Homo sapiens: one gene and its partner. The protein of the gene in region 2 purifies or fractionates together with the protein of the main gene of each other region. This does not show direct contact. Each region holds a gene or a part of one and is shown on either strand. Other genes may lie near its edges.

Region 1 (3,500 bases), on a different chromosome or scaffold from region 2:
AGGATCACTTGAGGCCAGGAGCTAGATACCAGCCTGGGCAACATAGTGAAACCCCATGTCTACAAAAAATTTTAAAAATTAGCTGGGTGCAATGGCATACACCTGTAGTCAATGCTAGCTACTTGGGAGGCTGAGGTGGGAGGATCACTTGAGCCCAGGAGTTTAAGGCTGCAGGGAGCTATGATTGCACCATGCTCTGCACAACAGAGTGAGATCCTGTCTCTAAAAAAAAGAAAAAATGAATTCCAGCTTCTTCTGCCTGGGCCCAGGTCTAGAAATATAAAAGTTACCCATTCCAGTTCCCTCAACATTACAGAAAAGTCAGGGGCGTTGTCTGCAAAGCTGGGCAAGTCAAGCTGTGACCAGGTGTTGGCTGCCTTGGCCTAAGACATCTGGGTTGTGTAAACTCATTTCTTTGTTTGTATATTTTCTTGCTTGGGGTTTGTTTTGTTCTATTTTCCCTTTCATTTCCTAGAAAAGCATCTTCTGGAAAGTTCTAGCCCTTTCCCAGCTACATAAAGAGGGAAGGGCCCTGGCCGCTGCACGCATCACCCACGCAGGAGGCCCCTAGAGGCTAGGGCTTACTCTGCAGGGGCAGCTCCCCAGAAACTGGGGACCTGGCTGGAGGGGTTGAGTGACCACAGGTGTCAATTGCTTTTTGTCTTCACACACAGAAAAGAGGTGGGACTAATAAATGGGCTGCTATTCCCCAGAAATCAAAGTTCACCCCCTCCTCGCTGCTGAAACACAGCTGGATTAGGGCCTTCTGTCACTTCTTCATCTCTGTCATCTTTGAGCCTTTTTGGCTGGGTCTGTCTCTGGCAAGGGTCAAAAATCTTCCTCCTCTACAGATTTTTTGGGAGGTGTTCAACCTGATTGACATCATTAGGAAGGAAGGCATGCCAGGTCAGGGATGCACAGCCTTTGCCATTTCCAAACTTACAGCTGCCTCTTTTGTGCTGTCATTGACGTCTGGTGACTCATCGCGTCTGTCCCATCTACTCCTGCTAATTGACATCCTCATTAGCAGCCACGCTGCCCCCATCTCAGAGCAGCCATCAGAATGAGCCCTGTCTCCATCTGCCTCTTCCCAGCCTTGCCAGTTATTGACATCTGCACTGAGCCTTTGAGCTTTGCCTAGTCTTTGGTGGACCTCGGCCATGATGGGCCAGTCTGGGTATAAACACCATGAAATAGAACCATCATGACGACAGATTTGTACAGACCAGGCTCTAGTGCTGGCTCTTGCTAACCAGCTGGGAGATCTTGGTCCAAGCTCCTTAGCCTTGGAGCCTCCATTTCTCCATCTGTAAAATGGAGATGATAATGCCAACCCTGCCCACACTGGGTTGTGGTGAGGAACAAATGGGCTGTGTGGAAGAAGCCCTGTACCCCACAGAGCACTCATAGACACAGATGACTGATCCCCTCTCTTCCCTACAGCTGCCCTGCACCACATTCCTTCCACCGGCTAGATGGGGGTGCTCCCAAGGTTCCGCTTTCCTGTTAACACATTGGAGCAAGGTTTTGTCTTATTACAGTCTACCTTCCAGTGACCACATCTCTGTCCATAGCTTCAACAAAACGTAGCTCCATGGAGCCCAAGTCCTTCCCCTAAGTGCCAGTGCCACGTGTCAGATGGCTTGCTTCACAGCTCCATCTGGATTTTTTCCCTTGTGTCTCAAATGCATGTCTGAAAATTCAGTATCTTTCCATCTGGCAGACTGTGAACTTTGCATTAAGTCCTTTCCCCAGGGGCCAGGCTCTTTCCCCACCCCCCACCTCCACCTCTCTTTACTGAGGCATCATCAGGCATCTTCCTCATGCACCCTTCATCCTCTCCCTGCCCACCAGCCCTGTCCAGTGGGCTATGCTAGCTGGTGGCCAAAGGCTGCTGACTTGTCTCCTGACCACAGCATTCCCTCATAGCTCGTCCTTTCTGCTTCGAGAGATACAACTGGTTTGAGGGTTGCTTTCTTACTTAGAAACCCTCGGGAGCTCTCCGTCACTTCCTGAATACAGTCCCGATTTCTTAGGTATTTCAAGCCTTTCCCAAAGTGATCCTGGCCAACTCACTCAGCCTTTTCTTTCATGTCTTCTCCTTTCTGTGTATCCTGCCTTCCAGTTAGATGGAAATGTGCTCCATTTCTTGGGCCACATCTTTCTTTGCCTTGCCTCCAGTTCCCCATCCCGGGACGTCTGTTGAAATCTTACTCTCCTCTGAGTGCAAGCTCACATGCAGCCCACGCTAAGAAGCTGCCGTGATGGTTCCTGGCAGCAGGGCTGAACACACAGAAGAGCATGTCACGCCAGCTGAGTGGCCCCAAGCATGCAGATGGCAGTGGGGAGCAGGGAGGCTGTGTTCTTATCTTCTCCACAGGCCGAGACCAGGTGTGTCACCTCATTTGACTTCACAAATTCTAACTCCAGAAAGTGTTTGTATGTAGTTTTTCAAAAATTTTTGCCTCATTAACTAATAGATGCCCCCAAAATGGCACAAAAGTGCTACAGAAACTTGGAGAATTAAGAGCTCACCCCAAGCGAAGGTGGTTTGCAAAGGCTGCCCAGAGACGTGAGGTTTGATTTGCCTTAAGGGATGGGTGAGTCTGGAGGGTCGCCAGGAGGCGGGGGATGGGCAGCCTCAGTAAGGGGACTGGAAGGCACCAAGTGGGGGCCAGGAGAGAACAGCGAGTGTTCCAGAAGTGTGGGCAGAAATAGAGCACCTCCTAGTCCTAGTAACAAAAATAGCTAATACATTTTGTGTTATTGATTATCTTGTATTATTTCATTGAATCTTCTCAACAACCACATGAGGTGGCTGCAGATGAGGAAAGTGAGACGCAGAGACAACTGTGACTCATTCAAGGAAATGCGCGACCCCATGGGGAGTTGGGACTCAAACCCAGGCATCCTGAGTCCATGCTTCCAGCCACTGCATGTTGCTGCTGCACTCAGCAAGATGTCTGAGAAGGCAGACAGTCCAACTTCCTTCCTGTGCAGAAATCTCAGACTGTCTTATTCCTGGGAGAATAAAAAATCTAGACCCTAACAGGTGTACAATGAAGAGTTTTGTAAGAAAGAAAGATTCAAAAATGAAATAGGTAACATATGGGCATTGAATGTGGAGCTGGATTTTAGCCTATATTCAATGGAATTGGAAGGTTTTGTGCAGGGAAGTGATGTAATGAGCGAGGAGGACGTGTAAGATTAATCTGTGGTGAATGTGCACTGACACTGGGGAGATCAATTAGGCAGAAAAAAAAAGGACTTTTAAAGAAGACAAATATTACTGGAACAGGCCGCTGGAGCAGTCTGGGAAATGAGCAGAATGACTTTTATAGAGCGTTCCAGGGCTTCAAGTAAATTCGAATTCAAATTTATTCTTCCTGTATTATTTGCTGCATCCTAAAATGGGCTAGGAAAAAAAAAACAGTGAATTTAGTGAGCATTTATTGTGTCCTTGCTGTATGTGAGGCCTTGTGCTAGGGACTTAAAACAAT
Region 2 (4,210 bases):
TATCACCTGAAAAGCAAGACCTTCTCTGATTACGCTATGATACATATCTCCTTAACCCTCCAGCACCCTTATCCTTCTTGTCCTTTTCTCCATAATATTTATCTGATATATTTTATAATCACTTATTATTTTTTGTCACTTGCCTCCCTCAACAAAAAGGCAATGGAAGCTCCATGAAGACAGAGATTGTTATTTTTATTTACTGATCTGTCTTAAGAGATAAATACAGTTCTTGTCATGACTTGGGAAGGGTTTGAGATTTTATCCTACTTGGAAGCTAAGAAGTTAGCCTGCCACATTATAATGGTTTCTGGCAGAAGGCACAGACTCCTGGCTCAGAGAAAAGGGACTTAATTATTCCATAGCAACAGCCAGAGTATTGGAATTTGTTCTGGTTTCCCAAGCCCCAATTTCCACAGGCCAATTTAAGGGGCATCAAGTGATAGTTGCAGGGAAAGTACAGTGTGTTAAAGGAAAGAAAGGCCAAGCTTTTAAAAACCCGAAATCTTTTGTAAAGGGCAATTAACATGGTCTTTGCCCTAGAAGGAGATATTAACTTTATTACACTAAACAGTAAACAAACCTGCCTTTTGGTGCAGAGGGAGACATTACGTATTTTCTAAGGTCGTTTGTTATATAAACACCCTTAAAAAGATAGTCTGAAACAAAGGTTATCAGTACCTCTACTCATAAGACACACCAAAACATGAGAGAGGATGGAGAATTCTCTTCTAATAACACATGGTAGATATCCAGCACATATTCTCTTTTACCCAGCACATATTCTCAGATGAAAGAGTAACCCTTTGAATTAGGTGTTATTATTATTTTAATTTCCAGATGAATACACAGAAGCACAGCAAAAGTGGCTCCAACAAGCACCCTCTAGCTCCAGAATACACGCTTTAGGGAACTGAGTCCTCTCTCTCTCTTGCTTTCTCTTTCCCTCTCATCTGCCACTCCATCAGCTACTTTAGGTTTTGTGAATGAGTGAGGGAAAAATAGAGAAAAGAGAAAGAAGAATAAGAAAGGAAGAGTGGAGGAAAGGAAAAAAGAATGGAGAGGTTTTACCCTACTTGGAATAAAATTCTTTCTAGTAGCTATCCATACCTGCTCATCTATCCAGAACTACAGAGTAGAAGGGATCTTTGAGTTCATCTTACAGGTGAGAAAACAGGCTTGAGAAGGGAATGACTTTCCCACAACCACAGAGGGAGTTAGGGATCAAACTAACCACTAGAACTATTTTCCTGACAGAATCTTTGCCTTGCATGTTTCAGGCCCACCTGGCTCCTTTCACCTTTCTTACACAGGTGACATTCCCAGAACCTGGAGGCCAGGCTATGACACAGAGTCAATCAATAACCAGGGAGATCTGTGATATAGCCCAGTAGGTGGGGCCTTGCTGCCATCTGCCATATGACCCTTCCAGTCCCAGGCTTCTGAAGAGACGTGGTAAGTGCGGTGCAGTTTTCAACTGACCTCTGGACGCAGAACTTCAGCCATGAAGGTAACAGGCATCTTTCTTCTCAGTGCCTTGGCCCTGTTGAGTCTATCTGGTAAGTGTTGCATATTTTTCAAATTTAAATAAAACTGTTTTGACCTGTTGCTTTGTGAAGCACATTATCTTCTAGACTTTTGATGTAGTCTAGTCTTCGAGAGATGTTTTGGACCTAATGAGATGAAATAAAATCAACAGGTAAGAATTATTTTTTAAGAGGAATTTTTAACCTACTATAAGGAAAACAATTCTACTAGTAAGAAATTCCCAGAAATAAAATGGTTTTCCTCTATTGATGTGGCTGACCCTTTGTTGGGATATGGTAGAGAAAAAAGGGTAAAAATATTTTAACTTTAAGTATACTTCTCATTCTGTAAATGTGTAAGGCCAAATTACAAATTTTAAATTCTCATGGGATTGCATAAAATAGATAAATGGCTTCCAGTTATTCAGTATAAAAGGCATAATTTGACTGATTAAAAATTTATTTTTTTATTGTATAGGTTTCAGTGTACTTGAATCATGTATAGTTTGTCAGATTTATCCCTGAATAGCTAATATATGTGATATAAAGGGAATTTTTTATTTTCAATTCCTGGTATTTCTTATTAGTATCTGGAAATACAAAAATTGCATTTTGTGTATTTACATTACACATTTTGAATGTTTTGAAAGAAAATATTCTGCTTGAATAGATGGTGCACATATACCTCCAACTGCATCTTGACAATGTTGACAGACAACTCTGAACCCGCAGAGCCAAGATCAGTTTCCTTTTTATCACTGGAAATGGTTAACATTTTCAACTTCACCTCTCATGTAGTGAAGGATCCTGTGGAGAGCCAAATCAGCACTTTGCTAAGAAGAGGAAGAATATTGTTTGTTTTATTTGCTGAATATTTATGGCAACAGTCAGTGTTCCCTTTCCCCCTCCTCATGCATGTTAATTAATACAAATAGATGCCTGTGATGAGCACCTGCTCTTCAGTTTTTAGACTCAACTAGATTCTAAAAGCCAGTGGGCCCCCAACAACATCAAGTTCTGACTATCCCGGGGGAAATTCTCCAAGCTCATAGATGCCTCACTAATTTTCATTACATTTAGATACAAAGAACTACCTCTTTGCTCAGATCACCTCAAAGATTGATGATATTAAAATTAATTTTCAGGAATGTTTCCTTATTTGATTGCTATCATATTAGTTCCCTTTCCCTTCCATGAACTTATCCACAGTTATCATTTCCTATATGTTGTCAGCAAAACCTCTGCTATTTTCTGGGGGAATAGAGATTAGCTATTTTGACTACCTGTAAATTCAACAAATGTGAGTTAGACCCATAGTCCATATGATGCAATTGTTGGAAATAGCTCTTTGGGAACTGATAGTGAGTTGGCAAAAGAACTCTATTTTTTCAACAATACTTACAAAAGGGAATTTAAATGTAATTGAAAAAGCTAACTTTGCATCAGAAGACCTGGTTACTGCTTATGATAACTGTTTCACAGCTAGTTATAAAAACTCTCCATACTTTCATCTGTAAACTGAGATAAAAATTATACTTCACTAATTGTGAGATTAAAGATCTAGTAACTGGTTTTGAGAATGTTTGTGAGTATTCAAAAGATAATTTGCTCAGTGCCTGATTCATTTCCAGCAGTAAGTGCATAATTTCTGTTTTCAAGGAAATAGATCAACTTCCTAAAACATCAAATCGAGATACTTTGGTCATAATCAAAGTTTTACTCAAACTTTTTAAGGTTTTGCCAAGGAAGGGGTACAGGAAAATCAGTCAGATACTTTTGGAAGATTAGAGAAATCAGAAAGGGTGGGGAATGAAAGAGCCTAGTAAAGAAGTCACAGTCTGCAATGAAAGCAGAGAATTCTGATGAAGAATAGATCTGACTTCTTTCATTTAGGACCCAACTTACCATATCTGATTTATTTCTAGGTAACACTGGAGCTGACTCCCTGGGAAGAGAGGTAAAGAGATATTTGTAATTTCTTATTTCTCAGACTGGAACAGTTTGATCCAACAAAAATGCAGCCTTGCTGTCACCTTTCAGTTTAGCCTGAAGTTAAGAGGAGTATGAATGCTAGGGAGGGTTAACGTGAGAAATGCAAATGGTAGTAGTAGTTCCAACCCACAGGCGTATATTGAAGGACAATTTCACTGATGTATAAGCAAGTTCCATATAGTCCTACAGTGCTTGCTGTGAAGGGGTTTTTATATAGACTAGTGATAGCTGTAGACAAGTATTTGGGGTGGAAGCCTTCTCAACTTCACTCCAAGTAGCCCTTCCTCCTTACAGCCAGTTTGACCATGTTGGCATGCAGCTCTCCCAATCACCAAGGTGTGGCTCTAATTTATAATGAATGACAGAAAATAATAAACTAGGTTCTCCTTCTAGAAAAATATTCTAACTCTAACCTTTTCATATTTTTTTGTTTAAGAGGTAATTTCAGTAAATTTGGAGACCAGAGGAAGAAGTGTCCCTGTTCTCAGTACATTTATATCTAGTCAGAGACAGCTGATAGACCAAAAGTTCATGAATGAATGCAATATTACATTTGTGATAAGTGTTATGAAAAAGTTCTGCTGCCGTTAGGAACTTAGCCTAGTTAGAAAAATCAGGGAGGGTGCTCCGAAGTAACTGAGGGGTTATTTTGAGCCAAAAAAAAAAAATGAGTGTTAGTAAAACAAAACTGG

Evidence for each region.
Region 1: the proteins of SPINK1 (region 2) and PDIA5 purify together in Homo sapiens (affinity purification with mass spectrometry; one large-scale study listed by BioGRID and IntAct). This does not show direct contact.

Annotation. Positions count from the first base shown.
Region 1 is NC_000003.12:123,119,025-123,122,524, forward strand, and holds part of PDIA5 (protein disulfide-isomerase A5 precursor), read left to right. Parts: intron 1-3,500.
Region 2 is NC_000005.10:147,828,872-147,833,081, reverse strand, and holds the start of SPINK1 (serine protease inhibitor Kazal-type 1 precursor), read left to right. Parts: upstream 1-1,410; 5' UTR 1,411-1,504; coding exon 1,505-1,559; exon of another isoform or gene 1,560-1,673; intron 1,674-2,211; exon of another isoform or gene 2,212-2,577; intron 2,578-3,451; coding exon 3,452-3,483; intron 3,484-4,210. UniProt on the Homo sapiens protein: Serine protease inhibitor which exhibits anti-trypsin activity. In the pancreas, protects against trypsin-catalyzed premature activation of zymogens.